Homo sapiens: one gene and its partner. The protein of the gene in region 2 purifies or fractionates together with the protein of the main gene of each other region. This does not show direct contact. Each region holds a gene or a part of one and is shown on either strand. Other genes may lie near its edges.

Region 1 (12,433 bases), on a different chromosome or scaffold from region 2:
ACCTCTCCAAAGGCAGGCCCGGGAGGAACAGGCCACAGCGGGTATAGGCAATGCTTAGAAGAAACTGCCAAATCCAACATGAGCAGGGCCCAATCTGAAAAACTAGGTGAAAGCTGAATCACACTTCCTTGGTCCAGGATGTCATATTTTTGACATTGCTCCTCTACGTTTCTCTTGCTGTATTTTAGTTCTATGTATGCAGCGAATATGATGAGTTAAGATGTTCTCAATAAATAATATTAATGCTTTGGGAGATCATTATGAGTGGGTTGGTCCAGTCAAATGGGAAGCCATTCTATGAAAGCCACTGGAGAAACAGAAAGCCCTCTGGCAAGGTATGGTCATTACGATGATGCTAAATATTGGAGAAAATAAAAACTTGTGATTTTATGAGCTAAGACTATCAGAAAAATTATGGCTTTAATGAAAAGAATTATCCCAAACTGTATGCAACATCAAATACTTTCAAAAATTGAAAGCTTATTTCATTTGGCAAACTTAAGTGTCACTGAGACAATGTTCTTTAAGGCCCTGAAATAGAAGAATATAATTTGTTTTATGAAATAACTTGATTTCTATAAGGTCACGGGTATAACAACGGATTCCACAAATATTGATGGATAGTCTACTATGTGCCAAGCCCTGTTTCAGTAATACAGCAGTGAAAAACATTCAAAATGCTCTAAAAGGGAGGCACTCAAACTTACTGTGTACCAGAAAGCAGCTGGAGGGCTTATTAAACAAAATACAGAGGGCTGAGCCCCATCCCCAGTTACTGATTCAATGGGGCTGGAGTGAGGCCGAAGAATCTGCATTTGCAGGCCAGGTCATGCTGATGCTTCCAGTCCTGGGACTCCATTTTGAGAACTACTGCTCTAAAATATATCTCCTTTTCTTTCTTTCTTTCAGCAGTAAGATGTCCCTTGAAGGAGTGGGTAGAAAAAAAAATTCTCAACAGATTTACCTCTCCTAGCAGCTTCATGGATGGGGGATGCCAGATCACTCTCAGGTTGAACGCTGGCTCCGTGCTGCAGAAGCAAATTCACACAATCCCAGCTGCCGCTGACACAAGCATTAAACAGTGGAGTGTGCCAGTCTGCTGTCACACCATTCACCTGGTAAAAGAAGCTCCAGAATGAAGACAGGAAGGGGGATGTTTTGGGTTCAAATGTGGGGTCCACCACTCTGAAGATGTTATTTAACATCTCTGAGCCTTAAATTCCTCAGCTATAAAATGGAGAAATAACTACGAAATTCCACAGGTTTTTGTGAAAAATGGAATTAGGGAGTGGCTATAAAGCATCGAAAATGTTACTCAATGTTCTATCTCCTCCATGCCCTCCCCAGGAACATGAACTTTGAAACTAGTTAGGATAATTTCAATCGCTTACAAACTAATCCCTATTTTAAACTTCTTTCCTAGACCCATCCCACACCAATTCAATTTCTTAACGGGTGCAAGAAGATTACTCTTGCTGCTGTGAGGAAATTGTTGAAATTATTAGCTGTGTAATTTAGTATATTCTTAAAGTATAATTTAGAAAACTTTAAAAAACTTGACTTTCATACAAATATAGAATTAACACATACCCAAGATTTTATTCAACTCACTCATTAATGAGGGAACCAGTAAGATGGTAAGGCTGGCTCAAAAAAACATTTGGCCAGGCGCAGTGGCTCACGCCTATAATCCCAGCACTTTGGGAGGCCGAGGCAGGCGGATTGCCTGAGCTCAGGAGTTCGAGACCAGCCTGGGCAACATGGTGAAACCCGGTCTCTACTAAGATACAAAAAATTAGCCCAGCATGGTAGCATGCGCCTGTAGTCCCAGCTACTCGGGAGGCTGAGGCAGGAGAATTACTTGAACCCGGGAGGCAGAGGTTGCAGTGAACCGAGATCACGCCACTGCACTCCAGCCTGGGCGACAGAGTGAGACTCTGTCTCAAAAAAAGAAAGAAAAAAGAAAAACGTATATAGTCAATGGACTGCTGAAATATATTTGCTAATAGATACAAAACTCCGCCGGGCACGGTGGCTCACACCTGTAATCCCAGCACTTTGGGAGACCAAGGTGGGCGGGTCACCTGAGGTCGGAAGTTCGAGACCAACCTGGGCAACATGATAACATGATGAAACCCCATCTCTACTAAAAATACAAAAATGAGCCAAGTGTGGTGGTGCGTGCCTATAATCCCAGCTACTCAGGAGGCTGAGGCAGGAGTATCACTCGAACCCAGGAGGCGGAGGTTGCAGGGAGCTGAGTTCGTGCCACTGTACTCCAGCCTGGGCGACAGAGCGAGACTCCATCTCAAAAATTAAAAAAATAAAAACATAAAAACTGGTTAATGTCCTATAGGGCCATAAAAGTATAATCTTTGAGGCTATCTTTTCTAATGTTGGAAATCAGACAGAAATTTCGAAGTTAATGTCTAACTTCACAGTGTTTGGGCTATAATTAAATAGTGAATAGAAAAGCCAAGTGCAGACACATTCTTGTATATCATTAAATGATTATCTGGTGAATCTTTTAAGCAATGATATTGTGAAGACAACGAATTCCTTCTCAAACTCTACTTCCAAGCAGGGCCAGGACCAGAGTGAGACATAAAAGTTGCCCAGGGTAAAAAATTTAAGGACATATTCATTTTTGGAGTCACACAAATAGTGCAGGACCCTGAGAGCGAGCACTTCTTTCAAGTTTGTACCCTAGGTGTCTCTTGCTTCACCTTGACACGTTCCCTGTTTCCAAGTTTTGAATGTTTTCTTAACCCAAATATAAATCTGGCAGTGCACTCACCTCTGGCTCTTTACTGATCTCAGGACAAAGCCCATTCTTTTTTTGGCATGGACAAGGTTGCTTATGTTCTGAACCCTCTCACCTACTCTACTGTCCTGCCGTAAGGAATGACTTCAAGATATAAAAATTGCTCACTATCATTTCTGGGACTTTGCATTTGCTGTTGCCAGAAGATAGCAAGCCCATAATTTTCCCCAACCCACCATTCAGTTGCCTAACACAAAACAGGTCCATTTTTGCTGCTCTTGCAATCCCTGCTACCATGTGAACAAGTCCAGGTTGCCAGCTAAAGGATGAATGACCACATAGATTTTCTGTCTCCTCAGACATCCTAGCCATCCCAGGCAAATGTGTGCTTTCCACAATATTTCATTACCTTCCGGCCATAACAATGAAGACAGAAGTCTAATAACTATTTATTAGTAGTGTATGATAAAGAAAATGATATAGACTGTAAGCGTGACTAAAAATTTAGTATTTCATCCATCCATCACTAAAGCAAACAAGCCTGATGAACATAATTTTCTTGAAAAACAACTGTCTTCATATTTCAAATCAGTCTAATCAAAAGTGCTGGAAGTTATTCAGAAGGGATATACATAGTCATTTTTCATTCTTGGTTTCTAAGATGTTGTTTCAGCTGCCCTTACCTGAGCTCCATGCTTTAATAAAATCTTCACACAAGAGAGATGACCTCCAAGACAGGCTTCATGGAGTGGGGAAACATGATCTGCCGTGATGATGTTCACAGCCCACCCCTGAAGGAGGGGAAACAGTCAGAGTAAGGGGTGCAAAGCAACAGTGCCCTGGGGCTGCTTTTCAGCCACCATTCCAGTACTATGACAAAGCTGACCTGGCTCAAAGTCAGATGTTACACTAAGGTGTTTATATTGACTTTAAAAAAAAAAAAATGCCACACTACTGGTGGGAGTGTGGTATGGTATAACCACTCAGGAAAACAGTTTGACTGTATCTATTAGAGCTGACAATGCATATGCCTATGACTCAGCAATTTGACTCTTAGGTATATATACATCTAGATAAATATACAAGAATATTCACAACAGCATTGGTCATAATAGTCAAAAACTGCAAACAAACCAAATGTCCATCAACAATGGACTGAATTAATTAACTTTGGTATAATCTTTCAGCAGAAAGATTACACCCAACAAATCATAATGGCAAGCACTACAAGGGTGATGCTTGCAAAAATAATGTTGAGCAAAAGAAGCAAAATCCAAAAGCATACACACTGAATGATTACATCAATTTAAAGTTCAAAATTAGGCAAAACTACCCCATATTGTTTCAGAAGACATAATATATAGAGTAAAACCATAAAGAAAACAAGGAAATCGGGATAATGGTTACTCCTGTGGAAGAGGGACAGGATTGTGTTCTAGAAAGCACAATAAGGGGAGGGATGGGTGAGTCTTTGGAGGAGCCAGCATTGTGCTATTTTTCCATTTCCTGACCTGGGGAGGCAGTCACATGGCAATATTCTCATCATCATCACTTTTTATTCAACTGCACACGTGTTTAAGTTCTTTCATGCTTATGAAATTTCTCAATTTTTTTAAAGTCAGCGTGGCCCAAATTGCTAAGTTTTAACAAGCAATTATTAAGTTTTAACATATTCACAAGTGGCTCTACCTTGTGAGACAATTAAAAGGAAATTTTCAAACTGCGAGGGAAAAGAAATAGACTGCTGCATGTACCTTTTAGGAAGCCTAAATGTACTTTCTTATTTTAGGAAATTGAAATGTACCTATTAACTAATATAATTGCTCTTTAAACATAAGTATTTAGTAACACACAGGATTTAATAATATTTGTAATAAAAATATCAGTTTCACCCAATTTTTTTTCTCAAAAAAACCCTCCTTTTCCTGACATTTAATTGTTTTTCTTAGATTTCCTAGCTCTATCATAGTTTTGACAAGGGGGTCAACAAACAGTAGCCTACAGAGTCAAATCTAGCCTACACCTGCTTCTGTAGCTAGGAATGGTTTCTACATTTTTAATGGTTTAAAAGAAATCAAAGGAATATTTTGTGACACGTGAAAATTTTATGAAATTCAAATTTCAGCATCCATAAGCAAAGTTTTATCAGAACACAGCCATGCCCATTCATTTACATATTGTCTACAACTGCTTTTCTGCTAAACAGCAGAGTTAGGTACTTCCAACAGAGACTGCATGGTTCGCAAGGCCTAAGATTCTTTTTTTTTTTTTTTTTTTTTTTTGAGACGATGTCTTGCTCTGTCGCCGAGGCTGGAGTGCAGTGGCGCGATCTCGGGTCACTGCAAGCTCCACCTCCTGGGTTCACGCCACTCTCCTGCCTCAGCCTCCCAGCCTAAAATATTTACTATCTGGTCCTTTACTGAAAAAAATTTGCCAACTCTTGGCCGGGTGCAGTGGCTCACGCCTGTAATCCCAGCACTTTGGGAGGCCGAGGCAGGCGGATCACGAGGTCAGGAGATCGAGACCATCCTGGCTAACACGGTGAAACCCCATCTCTACTAAAAATACAAAAAATTAGCCGGGCGAGGTGGGGGACACCTGTAGTCCCAGCTACTCGGGAGGCTGAGGCAGGAGAATGGCGTGAACCCCAGGGGGCGGAGCCTGCAGTGAGCCGAGATGGCGCCACTGCACTCCAGCCTGGGCGACAGCAAGACTCCGTCTCAAAAAAAAAAAAAAAAAAAGAAAGAAAAAAATGTGCCAACTTTTGTCGTGATCAAAGAAAAGAATATGTCATTTCTTACTTTACTATTCATACCTAAGACTTAAATGTCCAATTGGCAGGAGAAAATATCTTATTTTCTCACAGTCATCACACTTATAGAAAGTAGCTTTGTCAATGCCACAAGAGGGGTATGATTGTCACATGAAGCAAAAATCATGCAAGTGTATCAGACACAAGTTGGGGGAAGGCAGGCCGAGGTACAGAACTTGGGCAAAAGGCAACCATAAAAACAACCAATAGGAAAATGTGCATACTCCTCCAGGCACAACTGCCATTGTAAAACCGGCATTTAGACCAGGCACGGTGGCTCATGCCTATAATCCCAGCACTTTGGGAGGCTAAGGCTGATGGATTATCTGAGGTCAGCAGTTTGAGACCAGCCTGACCAACATGGTGAAACCTCGTCTCTACTAAAAATATAAAATTAGCGGGGCGTGGTGGCACATGCCTGTAGTCCCAGCTACTCGGGAGGCTGAGGCAGAATTGCTTCAACCCAGGAGGCGGAGGTTGCAGTGAGCCGAGATCGCGCCACTGCACTCCAGATGGCAACAAGAGTGAAACTCCATCTCAAAAAAATAATAATAATAATAATAATAATGATAAAAATAAAACCAGCATTTAGGTGTTTATACATAAATCCACGTAAATGAAATACAACAACACAGCTATTCGTAACACAAAAAGTTTTCACCACATATTCACATTGCAGAGAGGTTCCTTCTGTAAAGTTAGAAACTCATTTGTAGTTCATCATCAAGCTACAGTTCTACCTTAAATTAACTGTGATTTGTCTAAATTATTAACAAGTCTGAGTCATATAAAATCATAAGGTAATTAACCCATTACTTCACAGTGTTCAGTCCACAGTCAGTTCTTAGTTTTTAAAAAAAGATTGAATGGCTTAACTTTAATATATCTATTTTCAGTCGTCAACTACGCTTAGTTGACAAAATGTACTTCTCTTGAGCCTTGACTTTGGATGTGGTCATGTGACTTGACCAGTGGGATGTTAGCAGATGTGACATGAACAGATTGGAAGTATTCTTGCATGGTGGGGCTTGTCCTGCTGTGCTCCAGCGTTTTGCCAAGAAAAAATAATTCCTCAGGTAGCCAGTGGTCCAAGCAGGATGAAAGAGATGTGCAGCAGGGCTACACCCAACCCACAGCTGGGAGCCAAGCCCAGCCAAGCCCAGCCTAGATGAACTGACACAAACACACATCAGCAAGAAATAATGGTTACTGTATCATGTCACTGAGTTTTGGGATGGTTTGTTATTGAGTTATGGGGTGGACTGACCTAGGTAGGTATTAGAATACTCATTTTATGAAAGCAGAAACCGGGGCTCTAAAAAGACATCTTACACAAATAATGTGATAGAACTTGGAGATATGGTTCTGGCTGATGTTTCATAAACACATAAATACTGAATGTAAATGAGTATCTGTCCAATTTAAGAAGTGATATATAAAAGCTGCAGTGATCATTTTTCATGCTATCAAAATAGGGTAAATTTCTAATTTTATCTGAGAAGTAGCCTAACTTCTTTTAGCTAGAATTAGTGTTATAATCTATTTATAATAGACTGCTGCTACCAAAAATGGCTTAAGATAGTGGCTTAGGATAGTATGAAATTTTTCTTTAGAAATTATTTTCTTATAGGAGGACTTCTTACTCTAGATAGGTCTATGAAATTGGATTTTTTAAAGCACATTTATTCTCACTCAGCTCTATCTGAAATTTAGCATTTCCTTCAGTTCAGAATGTAGACAACAAACCACAGTAGTAATAGTATTATGTAGGGTTATCTCCAATAGAAATTACAGATATTTTCTATTGTATTACAATTGCTGTAGACATCTAAAATATCTCAAAATCTATACTCATCCTATTTAGACGTTATGGTAGTTACTAGAATCACCACTAGGTCTTCTATTTAATGAATTAATTTAAAAGTCCCTATGTTATTATGTCACACATTTGTTTTAATATTTTGATAGGTTTCTTCTGTATTGTATTTTCAAAAAGCTACCTGGCTGATGAGGTTCCTCAGAGACAGCTGATGTCCGTGGATTGCAGCTTCATGCATAGGAGACCAATCAGACACAGCATCTGTATGGAAAGAGGGGAATGGGTTATATCCTGCTAATGCACTTAGACCCAGAGGCTTATCCTTGCCCATCAATAAGAGCCTAACAGGCCCTGGATGGAGGGAGACATTGGATTCACTCAACCAAAATTCCCATCAGGAATTCAGCATTTCTCTTCTTTATTAATATTTTTTGTGCACAGTTTGTTTGAAATGTCTGGATAGCTTGGGAAAGAACTACAGCCAGTCCTCAAACTAAGGACAAAAGAGGTGGATTGGGATGACAGATTACTCTATTTCTATTTACACACTGGTTTCAAAGGCAAATGGCCCATTTAGTTAAGCGAGAGCTTCACTAATTACCAACATTAGTGTGTTAAGCTGTAGCTGTCAGTCTAGTTTCCTGCATGAAATACAGACTTTGGCATCTCACCAAACAGTGTTCTGTATTAATAGTAGTAATCATGTAATTACATACACCATTAGGTTTGGAATCAAATCTAAACAGAACCATATCTATTTATAGATTATCTCCTGTCCTAATATTAAGCACAAATCAGTGTTCAGTCTCACCTTGAAACAGGGACATTATTTACCCTCAAAGGCAGCATGCCAAGGTGGTTAAAGAAAGCTCTTAATTCAGACCCGCTTCACCTTTTCTGACCTGTGGGTCCCGGGAAAGGCCCAGTGCCGCAGTTTCCTTCTCTGTAAAGTTACAAGTTGAGCAGCCCTAATATATAACATACAGGTTGAGCATCCTTAACCCAAAACTCCCAAATCCAAAATGCTCCAAAATCCAAAGCTTCTTGAGTGCTAACATGATGCCACAAGTGGAAAATTCCACATCTGACATGTGATGGGTTGCAGTCAAAACGTTGTTTCATGCACAAACTTATTTAAAATATTATATAAAATTATCTCAGGTTATGTGTGTAAGGTGTATATAAAACATAAATGCATTTCGTGTTTAGACTTGAGTACCATCCACAAGATAAGTCATTATGTATATGCAAATATTCCAACATCTGAAAAAACTGGAAACACTTCTGGTCCCAAGGATTTCAGAGACGGGATGCTCAACCTGTACTTACCATGGCTCAACACATACTAGCTACTATTATTATCCTGCCCTAACACTAAACAGAGAGTCTTAATTATACCTCATCATCATTGCTATTTAAAATAGCAAATTTACACCAGGCGTGGTGGCTCACACCTGCAATCCCAGCACTTTGAGAGGCCGAGGTGGGCAGATCACCTGAGGTCAGGAGTTCGAGACCAGCCTTGCAACATGGTGAAACACCATCTCTAGTAAAAATGTAAAAATTAGCTGGGTGTGGTGGCTCACGCCTATAATCCCAGCTAGTCGGGAGGCTGAGGCGGGAGAATCGGTTGAACCCGGGAGGCGGAGGTTGCAGTGAGCCGAGATCATGCCACTGCACTCCAGCCTGGGTGACACAGTGAGACTCTGTCTCAAAAAAATAAAATAAAATAGCAAATTTATTCTACAACCACATAGAAGGAAAACAAATTCTTAGGAAAGAAGCCTGAAAACCCAATCCCAACCCATTAAATGCTTTCCTCTCTCTTAATTGAATATAACTGAATGAGGCATAGATCTGATTTTTTTCTCATCTCAAGCTTCATCTGATTTCCAGTAGAAATGTGAGGGAGGCGTGCCTGAACCTGCTTCAGCTCCAGCTCCACCTGCTTCGCCAAACACACTACATACAAACAAGGTAGAAAGGTCTGGTGCCAGTTATGCCTTGCACGGAAGCTAATAGCTCCTAAAAACTGAGAAGACCTGGAGAAGGAGGATACTTAACTATCTATACCTTGCAAACTGAAAGGCTATGAAGTATCCTTTGTATTTAACACATGTTGGCTTAACACTTTGTACTTAACACATGAGGCCCGTCTGTCTGCCACCTGAAGCCATCAGTGCCCTGGAAAATCTGTATTAGTAAGCAAATTACCATTCTTCCAGATGGATTCATTAAGCATTTAGTACATAAAAGGAAGACAAATGAGCCCATCTACATACCGCCCATCCAATGCTTTCCTTCTGGGGTCACTAAAGGTGCTTGAGACAAGGTACATCTTAAGTGAAATGGCTTTTCGTACCGTCAAAACCTCACGCTTAATAGATACTCAATGTCCTCACGGCATTCTCTGAGGCTCCTAATTATTTCTGGAATAATACTGCTGATTCTAGGGCTTGGAAGCTAAAATTCGGACTGCAGACATGGAAAGATTGATCTCCAAATTAGAATTAAAAGGACAACTAATTCCACCCTGTTGGTGCTGATAATGCCAAATACCATTCACACAAAATCTTGAATGAGAACAAAGAGCCACAAATTGAGAAAGGTTTTGAAAATCAGTTTTCAATAGATTTGCAAATGTATCTTGATGGATCACCATATGTATGATGATTAATCCACTTTTTTTTCCAAGTGCTCAGCTGCTAAGAAATACAGCTGCCACATTCCCCAACCTCTCTTAGAGCTCCCTAAGATTATTATTGTCGACAGGCTAAACAGTCCAGGCAGGTAGATTGCATCCTAATTTGTAACTGTCCAGATTTCATAAAAATGACGCATTTATCAAGTGTAGCCACAAATGGTCTTACTTTCTGCTCATTCATCATGGGACCATTACTCTTTCTATTTGGGGCAAATAAAGAAGTACGTACTTCTCCAAGAGAATAACAAGGCTATCTGAATTTGCACCTCTGCAGAATGTAGTGTTTACAGAGCAGAGACAGCTTGTGTCTTTGAGAAGTACAGAGTGTTGTCCTGGTACACGTAGTGAGGGGCTGACAATGTGAATATCTCTAGCTAGCTAGCTAGCAAGCAGCTGTATTGAGATATAATTCACATACCATACAATACACCCATTTAATGTGTACAATTCAGCAGTTTTCAGTATATTCAGAGCTATGCAACCAACACCACAATCAATTTTAGAACATTTTCATCACCCCAAAAAGAAACTCTGTGCCCATTAGCAGTCACTCCACAGTTCTACTTCCCTCAGCCCCTGGCAGCCATGGATCTACTTTCTGTCTCTATGGATTTGCCTATTCTGGACATTTCATATAAATGAAACCATACAGTATGTGGTACTTTGCAACTGGCTTCTTTTATTTAGCATGTTTCAAAGTTTCATCCATGTTGTAGCGTGCATCAGTACTTCATTCCTTTTTTTTTTTTTTTTGGCCAAATAATTCCATTGTATGGATAAGCCACATTTTATGTATTCATTCATCAGCTGATAAAAATTTGTGTCATTTCTACTTCTTGCCTATTATGAATAATGCTGCTATAAACATTCATATACAAGTTTTTGAGCAGATATATGTTTTCAATTCTCCTGAATATGCACCTAAAAGAATTGCTGTATGATATGGTAACACAATGTTTATTTTGAGACTGTTTTCCAAAGTGGCTGCCCTACTGTATGTTCCCATCAGCAGGATATGAGGCTTCCCCTTCTAACATAAAGTCATTTCAGTTCAGGGTTTGTTAAGCCTGTCACAGTATGCCTATGCTCCTGCCCAGAAGAAAAACGTGAGTCCCTGTAAAACTAAAATCCATCTCAAATTTATACAAGGACTTTGACCTCAGCAGGTATCAGAACAAATGAGTGATTATGTGAAAATTTACAGTAGTGACAATTAATAATTTAACATTTTTCTTTGTGTGTAATGTTCTGTTGGTTTTTTGAGACGGAGTCTCATTCTGTCACCCAGGCTGGAGTACAGTGGGGCAATCTTGGCTCACTGCAACCTCCACCTCCTGGGTTCAAGTGGTTCTCCTGCCTCAGCCTCTCAAGTAACTGGGACTACAGGTGCACACCATCACACTCAGTTAATTTTTGTAACTTTAGTAGAGACAGGATTTCACCATGTTGGCCAGGCTGGTCTCCAACTCCTGACCTCAAGTGATCCATGCGCCTCAGCCTCCCAAAGTGCTGGGATTATAGGCATGAGCCACTGCGCCTGGCCTAGTTTAACATTTTTCTAACATTCAGAGAGCATAGATTGTGTGTATGTGTGTGTGTATTAGCAAGAACTTATCTTTCTTTTAAATTGTACCCTCATCAAACCTGGAGCACATTAGGGAGGCTGCCATTTCATTTTTATTGTAATTTGTGGAACATTTTTTTCATTTCCATTATTTCAAAAGAGATTTAAGATGCACTAATTGCTACATGCTGAAAATAGCTATTACTGATGTTCTGAGAACCCCAGTGAATGCTGGGCGGTAGCATAAATCTACTCATCCTGAGAAACGTTTTGCAAAGTCAAGGAGACAAAAAAGAAGTCGGGTTGCTCTGAGGGGACAGGAGTATTTGCCTTCAGTCTTCAGGACACAATAAGGGTGGATTCAGTGGCATGAACCAACCTGCCAGAACCTGGAAAGTATCTGGGTGCTGTATTCACAATTATTGTGGACCTTGGTTTGATCCCAGGACAAACAGAAAGAGGAGAAAAAGAAACAAGAGGCTTACAGTCAGAAACAAACAGAAAGGCCCACTGAGGCAACTCTTGGGCAAGTCAGGCCTGTCCACTGCAGTTCTTTCTCCAGTTCCATCATCCAGCCTCTCCTCTCCTCTTTCTTCTCTCTCTTCTCTCTCTTCTCTTTCCTGTCTCCCTCTCTCTTCTCTCTCTCTCTCTCTCTCTCAATATAAAGCTGCCTTCTCCAAAGGGCCCTCACATTATCACCCATTCTGTCTCAACAGGCAGGTTTTCCCCCAGAAAACTCACCCCTCCTGAGGTGCCCCAATATCTAAAAA
Region 2 (12,817 bases):
AGACTGTTGGTCCTAAGAAGCCAGCCCTTTTGGAGAGGCAGCTGCAAAAAGGTGCACGCCCATCTCACCGACAAAACTGTGGAACAGAAGGCCACCAAGTGCTGTGGGGAATCATGGGTTTCAGTGCTGAGTGAAAATCTATACCTAAAAATCATCTCTGCACCTTGCTTTGTTTGTTTTCTTTCCCCACTCATAGTACTGCAGGAATCTATTCTCATTTACACAGACCTTTTTTTAGGCTTACTATGAACATTGGCTGTATTTTTTTTAAACAGTTTAGTGAAATTTTCTTTTCAAAACCCACACTTCCATATGCTGTTCGTAGATCTCTTTCTTTAAAAACTGATGTTGAGAGATCTCTGAGAATATTATAAGTGCATGGGAAATGGGCCCAACCACCGAACAGCTCTTACATTACAAAACCAAATGCAAGGGTTAGTCCTGCTACCTGAGGCTGGGGAAGTGACCTTCCTTTTCCCAAGATTGTCAGTTGTTGAAGAAATAGGGCTATCTCATTGTTTACCTCCCTCTTCTCTTCTCAGGGAGACTGCTGCTTTAAAAGAAGGAAGAGAAAAAATATAGTTCTATTTCCCTGAACCTGTTGCACCTGACATTTTCTCTTAGCAGCATGAAACTTATTGATGCTGACAATGAAAAATGGATCTGTCTGGCTGCTTTCCCTCTTTCCTTGCACTTTAATTATGTTGCTAGAGCTAACAGACTAATAAATTCCACCTGCTGGCTCTTAAGACTCAGTGAAAGAGCTAGCATTGGTAATGCACCATAGAGGTAGAGAATGTACACTTTCTGCACGGTAAGTGCCATCTCTGTATGTAACTATATAGTGAAATATCAACTAAGTAAAAGAAAATATAATATTTGAAGACCATTCCCAAAATATTTTCAATAGTTCATATTAGCCAACAGTGTAGCACTCAACCCAAGGAGGGTTCCTTATGGATGCTTTCTTTTTCTTTTTTAAAGTTGCTTGTTTGTTCTCTTTAGTTTCAAATAAGAGGTTGACGCATCTTGATGCATGATGAGAAGCATGGGCTGTTTGGATCCTAACAACGCATAACTTGTGATTTATTTCTCAGTGCTCCAGAAACTGAGGGTTTGAAATAATATGTATCAGTTGCACCAAACACCTCAAGGTCTTGCAGAAGAAAAGTAAAGGTTAGCTTTCATGGCTCAAAAGCATAGTCCTGAAGGGTGAACTAAAACCGGGACAAATCTGTGAGAGGACCACACACATACTAGTTTCGGGCCAAACAACACGTGGAAAGGTGCATGCATTCTACTCTGCCTTGGAGTTGCCAGAGTCCTTCAGAGGGAAAGGGATGGTTCTGTGTGCACTTTTTCTGGAAGTTCGGACTCATTTCTTTGACCCAAATGTTCCAGAGACACTGCAGCCATTCTTATTAACAAAAAATAAGACAGGAGTTTCCAAATGCTCCTTCCCTTTTGGATCGCAGCTTTTCTTCAACTAGTGACAAAGCTTTTGCGCCTATTTCCTGCAGGATGTTGGAACTGCCCCGCACTGGTCATATTAGGCACTGTCAATTGCTATGCTGACTTTTAGGGGGTTTTTGTTTGTTTGAAAAACAGGGTCTCACCATGTTGCCCAGGCTGGTCTCGAACTCCTGGACTCAAGCAATCTTCCTGCCTCAGCCTCTCAAGCAGCTGGGACTGCAGGGGTGTGCCACTCACTAGCCTTTCGCATTTTTGTTTGAGAATTACACCACTTTCTGGAGTCTGCAGCCTTCCTGGAGCTGCAAGAGGGCAAGAGAGAGAGCTCCACCTCTGAGGGAGTGTCTGTTGATGACCTGCACTATTCGTGTGCCAGCTGGGAGAGGAATGCACATTTTAAAATCCCTTCAATTTGGTCAAATTAAAAATCCCCAAGAGCAATTTGCAGTGTTTTTTCTGGTCGTTAAAGTACCCATCCTCTTCTGCCTACACACAAAGCATGCATTCCCAGCTGCATCTGCCTCTAGTCCATTATGGAGACCCATTTCTAAGAGGAGATGGGAGGTCAACCTCTAACAGCCAAGTAGCGAACATGTATACTGTAAAATTAACCTAGAAAATCAGAAGAAAAATCCAATTTCATGCTTTCGAATGAATGCCCACATTTTGTACTGTCAACGAAATTATCTTGGAGCTTTTAGGGGATGCCTTTTCGTTATTAACTGAGACATCTAGTTTTGCTACAGGGACAAATCTCTTACCTAATCCAATATATTATTTGACAGATTCAGGCATGAAGTAAAACGTCGTCACTTTTCCTTAGTGCTTTTCTGAAGGAATTTAAAGACGGAATTTTAAACGGCCATTGCAATATTTTCAAGTGGCTCTCATACCAAGTCCCATTACTGTTTGTTAAATTTCAGTACGTCTTAAAGTACTACTTATAAACAAATGAAACTCAGAGAAACTGAATCACCTGGAAGAGAAAAATCCATTATGGTCCCATGTGGAGTGAATAATGATGGATCAGCACCCTTTCTCTCATGTTATTGTATAAGACGAGACTTTTGGGCCAGCAGCGATTGGGCAGCTTTTAAATTCTTAACTGAAAAGAGTAATGCAATACAGGGATTATTCCCAATAAAATTAACTTTTATTTAAAAGCAAGAGATTTTACTTAGCTTTTTTTTTTCAAAGTTTGATTTTATCCCCTTGAAAAAAAATCTCTTCACTTTAAAGTATAAAGGTTTTTAAAAATCCAATTGCAAAATGTATTATTTTTACAACTATCGAAAAGGCATAAAAGAGAACATACTATTTATGGCTGAAGGGTATAGCCAGGCTAATGTGCACAGAGGGAATCAATAAATAAAACTCTTTTTCATTTCAGTAAGAAATCAGATTGTAAGTTTAATGGCTCCATTATAGATACCACCGTGTAATAGAAGACTTAAGTCAATGAAATCTAATCAGTGTGTCATTTCTCAGCGGCCATTGGTGACTTAAAATTAAGATGAGGCAGAGCCAAAATGGAAAACAGTCATTTTGTTGTAGGTATAAACACATGAACGATTCAGAAAATTATTCATCTCAGCTGCCATGCAGCATGACATTAACATTAGGATTGATAGCACTAGTCTGATCTGCTCAAGGAAAATAATAGTTCTATTATACTTAATGATGTTGGTTTTTACACAGCTCATTTCATTTTTCACTAGAAAGCCAGTTATGAAAGAGAGCTGGCCTAGGCATCCCGGCCCTGAGTCCTAGGCCCAGTCTCCAACTGGAAAACCTTAGGCTGGTGTTTACACATCCCTGAGCCTCAGTTTCCTCATCTGCAAAACGGTGTGAATAGTAATCCCTGTGCTGCTTATCTCACAGGGCTATTGTGAGGACCAAATGGATTAGACTGTAAACTGCAAAGTGCTGTCCGCACATGAGGTCATCTGATTACTGTCCTCAGATCTCTTTTGTAGAGGATTTCAATGTATTTCTTTATCATTTGAGTGTGTGTGTGATGGACGAATATGTGTGTGAGTTTGAGAAGCATATCGTTCGTGTCCAGTTACTTTGCAAATTTGTGGACATTTGTGATTGGACAGAGGGGTTTGTGCTGTGGCCTAACACTTGCCAAGTGAGGTGTAGGTTATGCCTATATGCAAATTAAACTTCACCTTTCTTGAATATTCAGAAATCTCACTGGTTTCTTCATTTAACTCTTTTTCCCCCCATTTTTCTACATTGTCAACTTAAAACCATGAAATGTATACATTTAGAAAAAATAGAACTTAATTTCTTATAAAGGGTTACAATCTGCAGGCTGGAGCCTCTGGCCAAAGCCAAAAGCAAGCACTTCAGATAAAAAAGGGAGAGGCTGAGATTTATGCCCAACAAGATGAGCCTTACATATACATTTAGTAGGTTATAGGATAATCTTATGAATATTTATGAGAGGCCCTAATGCATGCATAGCCAGTAATCATATATGTTACATGTTACATACAACCCATGTTCACTTTGGGATGGAGACTTAAAATGTAGTAAAATTGGGCTCTATATGTCAAAAGATGGAACACAGGGCACAAAGACGCTTGGTGTGCAATCTCTGTAAACCGGCCAGAACCGGCTGTGGTCTGTGGTCAGTTATGAGGATGGAGTGCTTTGTAAGGCTGAACACTTGTCAGGGGGAAACTGCGTTGAGGGAAGGGGGGGTTCGCCACGTCAGGTTGTCTGTTGAAGTTGAGGAAGAAATCTTCCAGACATAGTTTTTCAGTAACTGGTTTTAGTTTAATTTTAGGAAAGAAAGTCTTGAGGCAGTTATCGAGGTGGGAGAGCGTTGGGTGTGACTGACCTCTTGCCTTGCCAAAGCTGTAGAATCTGGTTTTTAATGTTTCCTGGGGTCTCTTTTTACCACAATGAGTCTGTTTTGTTTTGCTTGGGGGCCTAGGGGCTTTATTTTTATTTTACATCTTCTTCATAGCAGTGAACTCCTTCAGATATATTATTTACTTCTAAATATTACTTCTAAAGTTCAGGGAGAAAAACAGTTTAGAAGAGGCCCTAAAATTCAAAGAATTTGGGGAAAGCTTTGAAATGATACGAAGGATCAACTAATCACACTTTCTTTGCAGTGCTTAGATTCTTCCTGTGACATCCCCAGCCTATATTTGATACCTCCAGGCACAGAGAACTCACTACTACCTGGAACAGCTCAGTCCATTGCACAGCAGCTCAACGCTCCTGAATGGGTGGTGGAGAGAGGAGAAGCCGCCAGGGTAGAGTCCTGGCCTAATAGTCACCAGGCTCCACCTAGGAGGGGCTTCTGAAATAAGACTCCTGTCTACCCCTAAAATAACTGCAGTGGTTATATGGATTACTATATATGAAAATACTTTAACTTCTATGAAGTTGTGGCAACATTTAGAGCTGATGGAATTAAGTTACAGTTGCTGGACACAAGAATAGACTAAGGAAAGGGGTCCCTCCTGCCCAATTCTGAAATGAGCAATCCAGGCTGGTGCGACAGAGGAACCCAGGTTCCTTTCATCCTATTACTTGCTCATCCCACAAGGCGTCATCCTTGCCTTCGAGGTCAAATCTGGGGCCTGCTCTAGCCACACTCCTGCTGGACTCAGGAACAGAAAAGAGAATAAGTCCAGGACATTTTCCTTTAAAGCAAATGATATGGCAGTCGCACACTTCAATTCTGTTCCTGCCCTTATGGCAGAAGCCAGCCACAGGGCAGCCTGGTGTGGCTAGAGCCCCAGAGCTTCAAAAGGAGTTGGTAACGATGAGAAGGGAATAGATGCCATGTGACAGGGATGGCATTTGAAAGATTTCCAGAAAGCCAGAATTTCTACTGTGAGTCCCTTGTAGAGATTTCATCCCCATCACACCACCTTTATAATAAGCTTGAAGAGGACCAGTCCCCCAAAAGAAGGGTGGTACCCTCTTTTCTCAACAATGACCCAATTTTTCTTCTGACCTTACTAACATAAACATTTACTCTATAAAATATAAGGTGTTGAGGTCGGGTGAGTGGAGGGGGCCCTAAATGTTGATTAGGCAATTGGGGAGGAAAAGGAGGTTTTTGCTATAACTGCCATTCTTTAAATCTACAATTCCATGCTCTTTAAAAGCCTTATAATTTTCTGGATCTGGGAGCTGGGCTATTTCAGGGTCAATGGATTTATTTCAGTTGGTGCCTGAACTGACTTGAAACAAGTGTGTGTGGAAAAGAGCTATTTTGAGAAGGAATAAACCGAGACTGCCCTGATGATAGAATATGCAAGCTGGTGGGTCTTGACTCCTTAAAGGATTATGAAATTAATTTGATTGGTCCCAATCTTTATATAACCACCCCAATCAGGAAACTTCCCATCCCGCCAAAAGGCCCCCTCACGTGCTCTCCCTGTCAGTACCCCATGCAAAGGTAAAATAGATGATATTTTTAAACATGGGTCGTGTTTAAAAGAAATGGAAACTCCTTCAGAGAATGAAGGAGAACCACACTGGGTAGAAGGTTATTCCTGGGGCTCCACCCCTTGCTCCATCAAGTCCTCTGAGCATGAGCTGGGCTCTGAGAAGGAAGAGACAGGAACCAATTGGTCATGTCCACGTGGCCTCAGAAGCTGAGTACGTGACGGTCACCAGATGCCTAGGCAGGCTCCCTTGAAATGGCAGGGCTGCTGTCCAAAATCCTGCTGGGTCATTGCTATTTACAGGCAGCCTTCCCGGCGTGCGGTGGATATCCCAAGCGGGGCTATTTTTAAGCAGGGCTATGGCCTGCCGTGGGTTAAGCTGGTGTGGACAGAAAGCGAGATGATCTAGCCATCTACTGCAGGGGGCCTGATCTTGAACAGAAACCTGACTGTAATTGTCCCTGGATCCAGGTCCCAGACAAAGACGCTGGAAGGAGGTCCCTCCAGCCCCTGGCTCAGGGCCCGGTCAGCTGCTGGAGCCAGGCAGCTTGAGACATCCTCCTCTCCGACCTTGGCTTGAGGGGTTCATCCTCCAGAGCTCACCAGGGCCCCAAGGCTGGTACACCTGAGAGAAGAGAGAAACAAATCCCCCAACAGATGTGCAATTTCACCTGCTGGCCCTTCCATTCTGAGATCCAGAGCCCTGGCAAAGGAGCCTCCAGGACCAGGCCTGGGAAGCAAGACTGGCTCCGCCTTTTACGTTTCAGAGAAAGGGCAGGTGCTATAAAGGGCCCAGCGCCCACGGGCCTGCCTTCAAGGGTACAGCTGTGGGGGCCGGTGCGCCCGGAGGTCTACGCTGGGATTGGTGAGGTCCTCTGGCCCCGCCCCGCCAGGGAGGATTTCCAGGCCGGCCCGACCAGCTCGCCCTGCATACACTTCTTGGCTGTGTGCGCTCAGCAGGACGTGGGAGGCTCCGGCTTCAAGGTCGGTGAGTCCGTGAAACTCTGCTTTATTCCTCCAAAGAGGGGTCATGGCTAGAGCCAGTGTGAAGGGCCTTGGAGGAGTGGATGCCGGGCTGTAGACGGGGACCCCGTTAGGACGCTGACTGCGAGGAGGCAATGGTGACTCGCTAAAGCCAGCAGAGCTCCCGCCCTTGGCCGAAGCGACCCCTCCTCCCTGCACACAGGTGGGGGCAGCTCAGCACCAGGAGCAGAACAAATCAGCACGCTGCCTGCAGGGCCTCTTTTTGGTAGTGAATCAGGAATTTTTCTCGATGGAAAAAAAAATCTAAAGGCTGTATTTTGACGCTAAGTTTGGGACAACTTTAAACTTAAAGTGTCTTTCCCTTGTAATTCACAGAGTCTAATCCACTCATTTCTGGGAATGTTTTTCCCCAGCAGTCTCAGTCTCAAAAGACATGTAAATCAGTGACTTGGGATGAACTAACTAGAAAATTAAAATTTTGAGAAGCTATTTGCTCATAAGCCCAATAGCCAGGCCCAGTTTAAACGGGCAAATAGTATTGCTAGAGATTCAGTTTTGCCGTCACTAATACTAACACATTGATAATGAGACAAGTAACCGTCTCCCCTCCCCACCATCCTTACCTTTCCCACCGGAGGTTAATTAAAAAAAAAAAAAAAAAAAAAAAAACCTATGGAATTGGCCCCACGTGTTTCACCTGGGCAGAGGCCTGTTCTTCACTAGCTTGCTTGCTTGGTTGGTTGTCCCGGGGTTAAAATCAGTCCTGTTCTTGCCCCTAGAGTGGTCTGCCTTCAAATGCTCTCCTCCGAATGTGAGGAAGAGTGACATTTGACAAACAGACCAAAACCTTTAGGTCTCCTCAGTGCTGCCCTTTAGACCTTCCAGAAAGTGTTGCCAGGCTCGTGACCCCTCACAGTGTCAGCTGAGTCAAGTGAGGGGCAGTTAGTGGCCCTCAGGACAAGGTTACGCTAGGTACACCAGTGTGCTGTTTCCAGAAGGGCTGCTTTTCCTGTCTACGGCTCTCACATTTTCTCTGTTCTGAACTCGTGTCCTTGGTCTGTTCTCTCTGTCCTCTCATAGAGGCGAGCATGGCCACAGCATGTGGCCAGAGACTTCCTGACAGGCAGGCTCTTCCGGGAGGCTCTTGGCCTTGTTTGGCGGTCTGAGCACTTCACTTCCTCTGCATTGATAGGCACCTTTTCCAAAGACCCCAGACTTTGGAGTTAATCACGCCTGTGGGTTAAGGCACTGTCACAGCAAAGCACAGGAGTGCCACATGCACCCCATGGACTCTGCCAGCCTCATGACCAAATCATATCATTAGGAAATGGGCCATAGGCAGGTCAGTTTTCCTAAGGAAACTGTGGGTTGGGTCGGGGGGAGTACCATACAGAATGGGGAGTCCTGGGGTTTCAGACACAGGAGGGAGACTGACTTTGCCCCTAGCTCAGAGGCCCTGGGCCTCCATCTCTGCCATAGCCTACAGCAGGCTCCATTTGTCTTCCCAAAGGAAGCCACGTAGAGTCTGTGTCAAGCATTCTGGGAGCTCCTGCCCACAGAGCCAGGAATCCAGCAGCAACCCATGCTGAAGGTGACTGCTGGAGGTCACACTAACCCTTGCCAGGAAGCCTCAGAGACTCCCTCCCTTGGGCGGGGAAGAAGGCAGCCCACTTCACAGCACTTCAAAGGACTAGATGGCTCCTAGCTTCCTGTTTTCTTGAAAACAATTTACCCTTGAGGGACAAAGTCTGGTAACGGTCCCATGCCTTCATCACAGGAGGCCTAGGAAAGGCCTCTGTTTTACAGAGTAGGATTCTAAATATCTCCTTCCTGCCTAGGACTGTCTATTTGCTGAGTAGAACAGTAATGCCAAGAGTGCCCATTAAGGTTGGCTGCGTACTAAGTGGTTTTGAGGTAACGCACACCCTTTGCTATCTTAGAACTGGGAGGAGACAGGCATTTTCTGCGGCCTAGGAGCCTGGCATCGTGAGAATTTGTTCAGAGTGTTCTGTGGAGCTGGTCCAAGCCCAAGGACATCCTCTGTTTTGGGGTGGCTCTCTGGATGGAAAGCTGACACGTGGTCCTCCTCCTGCCCTTCCACCTGCCCTCTGGCTGAGGAGTTCAGACACATGGACGCTGTGAATGGCTGGACCAGAAATAAATCTGAGTCAGCAGAAAGGCAGACATGGTCCATCCGGGATGCCCAGGAAGAGCAGGGGGCTCGGGCTGGAGGCAGTGACAGAACCCAAGGCCTCCTCTTCACATTCTAGGATGTCACAGAACCAGAGAAGAGCATTAAGACCAGGATCTGAACTCCCAGTATACCTGCCTGGGACCAAGAAATGTACAGCTTGTGGCCACTTAACAAAAGGGCTTGATGTAGCTGTCGTTGTTTTTTTAATGCGGAGGGCAGTGTAGGAACAAACAGGATATTATTGCTTTTGGCTCTGTCTGGCTGTGCTCTTGCACCTCCCCATCGCTCCAAATCTCCCTGGCTTGGAGCCCAGGTATTCTGCCAATTTTAGCCTAGATGCTGTAAGCAGTGTTTTTCAATTCAGGAGTCATTGTGGTGTTCCAGGTTAGGGAAACTGAGGCAGAAAGCTTCTATGGGGTGAGAGCTGGAGACCACCTTCCTCTTCACACTGGCACAGCATCCCTAGCAAGGCCTGGCAGGCACATTGAGCACTAGAGTCAGAGTGGAGCGGGCAGAGATATCCCTGGCGTCTGGGTTACTTCAGCGGGAGCCTGAGGACAGGGAAAGAGAACAAGTTTATAATCTGCAACTTTAGAAGTCATATGCCCTGAGGTGACAATCCTGTGCCTAGGAGCTGCTGTGTTAAATGCACTTCTACGGTCTTGGGGGTTTGACTGAGTGGAATGATCTGTGGCACCACAGGTTTTAAGCCACAGGGGTGGTTTCCCTCCAATTGCTGGTCAGTGAAGGGCTGTATGTGAGGTGCTGCGGTCTGCAAGGAAGCTGAATCCAGTGCAAAAGACAAACCTGGGTTCAAATCCCAGCTCTACTAGTGTGCTGGCACTGAAACCTGGGGCAGGTCACTTCTCTTGAGCCTCTGTTTCCCCATGCCCAAAATAAAGCATACTTGGCAGGATTGTTACATAGACTGATTGTGTTTGTAAGGTCCCTTACATAATGCATGGCTCATGATAGGAGCTCATAAATGCTCAAAAAGAAGACAGAAGGTTTGACTCAGTCGGTGTATAGGGTTGGAAAGGATATTCCAGGGGAAAGAAAACACTCAAGCAAAGGCTCAGAGGTGGCAAAGTGAAGGACCTGTTCAGTGATGCCAGGAAGTCATTGGAGACACTGTTGGAGGGGTGGAGTCTGGAAGAAGAACTGGGGAGCCCAATTGGTTAAATCCATTTTGTGAACCCCGATGTTGGTTTTCAGAGGATGATCAGTAGATCTGAAAGTATGTGATAGACACCTTTGAAGTCTTGTCCGCAGAGATAGAAAATACAAATTAAAAGAAGGCAGCTGTGGTGGTTCACACCTCTAATCCCAGCACTTTGGGAGGCTGAGGCAGGTGGATCACTTGAGGTCAGGAGTTCGAGACCAGCCCGGCCAACATGGCAAAATCCCATCTCTACTAAAAGTACAAAATTAGCCACATGTGGTGGTGGGCGCCTGTAATCCCAGCTACTTGGGAGGCTGAGGCAGGAGAATTGCTTGAACCCAGGAGGTGGAGACTGCAGTGAGCTGAGATCGCACCACTGCACTCCAGCCTGGGTGACAGAGCGAGACTCTTTCTCAAATTAAATGAAACATTTAAATGCGAAAAATGTAAGTTAAAATCAAAAAGCATTCAGAAAAGGGGCAGGCCGAGTGCTGGCTGGAATAATCAGGTGTGGCTTTGGGGAGGGAGTGATGATGATCCCATAGCCTTAGGGTCATCAGGGGAAGGGACTCATTTATTCAGTGCCTACTGCAGCCTGTCCCGTCGTCTTCACAACACCTCACAGGGAGACCTCATCATGCCCATGATGGGGAGGAGCTGCTGAGGCTCGGGTGGGTACCAAGCAGGGTTCCTACACCTAGCGGGGCTTGGTAACATCCTGTAATCGGGGAGCTTTTTCTCATTATACATGTGAGGGCCCCACTCTTGGAGAGACTCATTCAAAAAAGGTGGAGCCTAGAAATCCAAAATTTTAACACACATCAAAATTTTCTTTTTTAGGTTTTTACTTTTTTATCATAAAGATAACACATGCTTATTTTTACAAGTGATACAATACAGAGTTCCATTAAGAGAAAATTAATCTGCCTTCTCCGAGTCCGTTACTCTGAAGCAACCCTTTTAGCAGTTTGATGAATATCCTTCAATACTTTTATGTTCATACAAATACATGAAAATGTATATGTATATATACATCATTGTTACAAATTGCAACCGCTCATATTCAGTCCTAAGCAAGTTTTTCTTTTCCTTTTAACCTAAAAAGGTGTCACAGATGGGCCTCCAGGTAAGTGGAGGCAGTTTTAACTCCTTTAATAGCTGCAGAATATTTCACCATCTGAATGCACCAGCATTTGTTGAGTGGCAGTGCTGGGCTTCTCAAACTATCTGTGGCAAAATCTCTTATTAATTTCTAATCCATAGCAGACTCACACATTTGTAAAATATGATAAAGTGCAACTATTAGAAAAAGAGAATAAGGCTGGGCGTGGTGGCTCACACCTGTAATCCCAGCATTTTGGGAGGCCAAGGCGGGCAGATCACGAGATCAGGAGATTGAGACCATCCTGGCTAACATGGTGAAACCCCGTCTCTATTAAAAATACAAAAAATTAGCTGGGCGAGGCGGCAGGCGCCTGCAGTCCCAGCTACTTGGGAGGATGAGGCAGGAGAATGGCGTGAACCCGGGAGGCGGAGCTTGCAGTGAGCAGAGATCGCGCCACTGCACTCCAGCCTGGGCGACAGAGCGAGACTGTCTCAAAAAAAATAAAAAAACAAAAACAAAAAAAAACCAGGCATATAAAATGCCAGCTCAAAATTTAAAAAGTAAAATGACTATCAAAGTGCTGTAGGTGTTCTAAATGCTTAATCTCAATTCCTGTACTTACATCGTCACGAACTGCTAACAGCCCACAGACCACACTTTGGCAGCATTGGTCTGGGGTCAGCCTTCCCTAAGTTGAAAAAATCACTCTTCTGTGAAGACCTTGTCACTTTTCACCACCTCCAAATTCAAGTCCCAGGTCTCACAGTTTGTTCCTTTGGCTATGGCTCCAGTGCCACGTGCTTTGGCTCCAACCTGTCTCTGCAGTCCCTCCCCTGCCTCTGCCACTCATGGCTCCTGCCTCTGCACATTCTGTCCACTGTATCTGGAAAGTCCTCCCTTTATCCACCAGGCAAGGTGAAGTGATAGCCCCGAAGATTTTTTACCTCTTCTAGAAAGCCCTCTCTGACCCACCAGGCAAATTTGGGTCTTCTCTCCTCTTTACTATTTTTGCTCTTGTCCTTTGGATTATAGTGGTAGGTTTTTATAGTGATCTGTCTCCCCCACCTGGCTGTACCCTGAACTCTATAAAAGCTCCTTGAGGGCAGCCCCAGTATCTGACACAAGGATTGATTCTCTAACGTTTGTTGAGCAGATGGAGGGATGGATGAGCAGATGGATGGATAGATGGACAAACGGATGGATGAAAGAGCTTCCAGGCTTAGCTCTCAGGCTGTAACGTAATCTTTGCTGTACACAGGCCGTGAACTGGGTGGTTGGCCTTGCCCATGTTCAAATCCATTTCTGTTCTAGACTCCAGAATCTGTCAGGGCTGTCTTGAACCGTGGGTTTCCTTGAGGCCCTCTAGGGTACGTAGCCACCACAAATTCCAGCCAGAATCAGTCCTAGCTTAATTCAACTCTCCAAATTTCAGGGGAATTATCTTCCGTAGAGTCCCTCCAGAGGCAAATTTGTATTAGTGA

Evidence for each region.
Region 1: the proteins of CKMT2 (region 2) and ASB9 purify together in Homo sapiens (co-immunoprecipitation; 2 studies listed by BioGRID and IntAct, with this or other methods). This does not show direct contact.

Annotation. Positions count from the first base shown.
Region 1 is NC_000023.11:15,251,290-15,263,722, forward strand, and holds part of ASB9 (ankyrin repeat and SOCS box protein 9), read right to left. Parts: intron 7,657-12,433; coding exon 7,577-7,656; intron 3,556-7,576; coding exon 3,448-3,555; intron 1,116-3,447; coding exon 965-1,115; intron 1-964. UniProt on the Homo sapiens protein: Substrate-recognition component of a cullin-5-RING E3 ubiquitin-protein ligase complex (ECS complex, also named CRL5 complex), which mediates the ubiquitination and subsequent proteasomal degradation of target proteins.
Region 2 is NC_000005.10:81,226,503-81,239,319, forward strand, and holds the start of CKMT2 (creatine kinase S-type, mitochondrial precursor), read left to right. Parts: upstream 1-6,819; 5' UTR 6,820-6,875; exon of another isoform or gene 6,876-6,879; intron 6,880-11,062; exon of another isoform or gene 11,063-12,817. UniProt on the Homo sapiens protein: Reversibly catalyzes the transfer of phosphate between ATP and various phosphogens (e.g. creatine phosphate).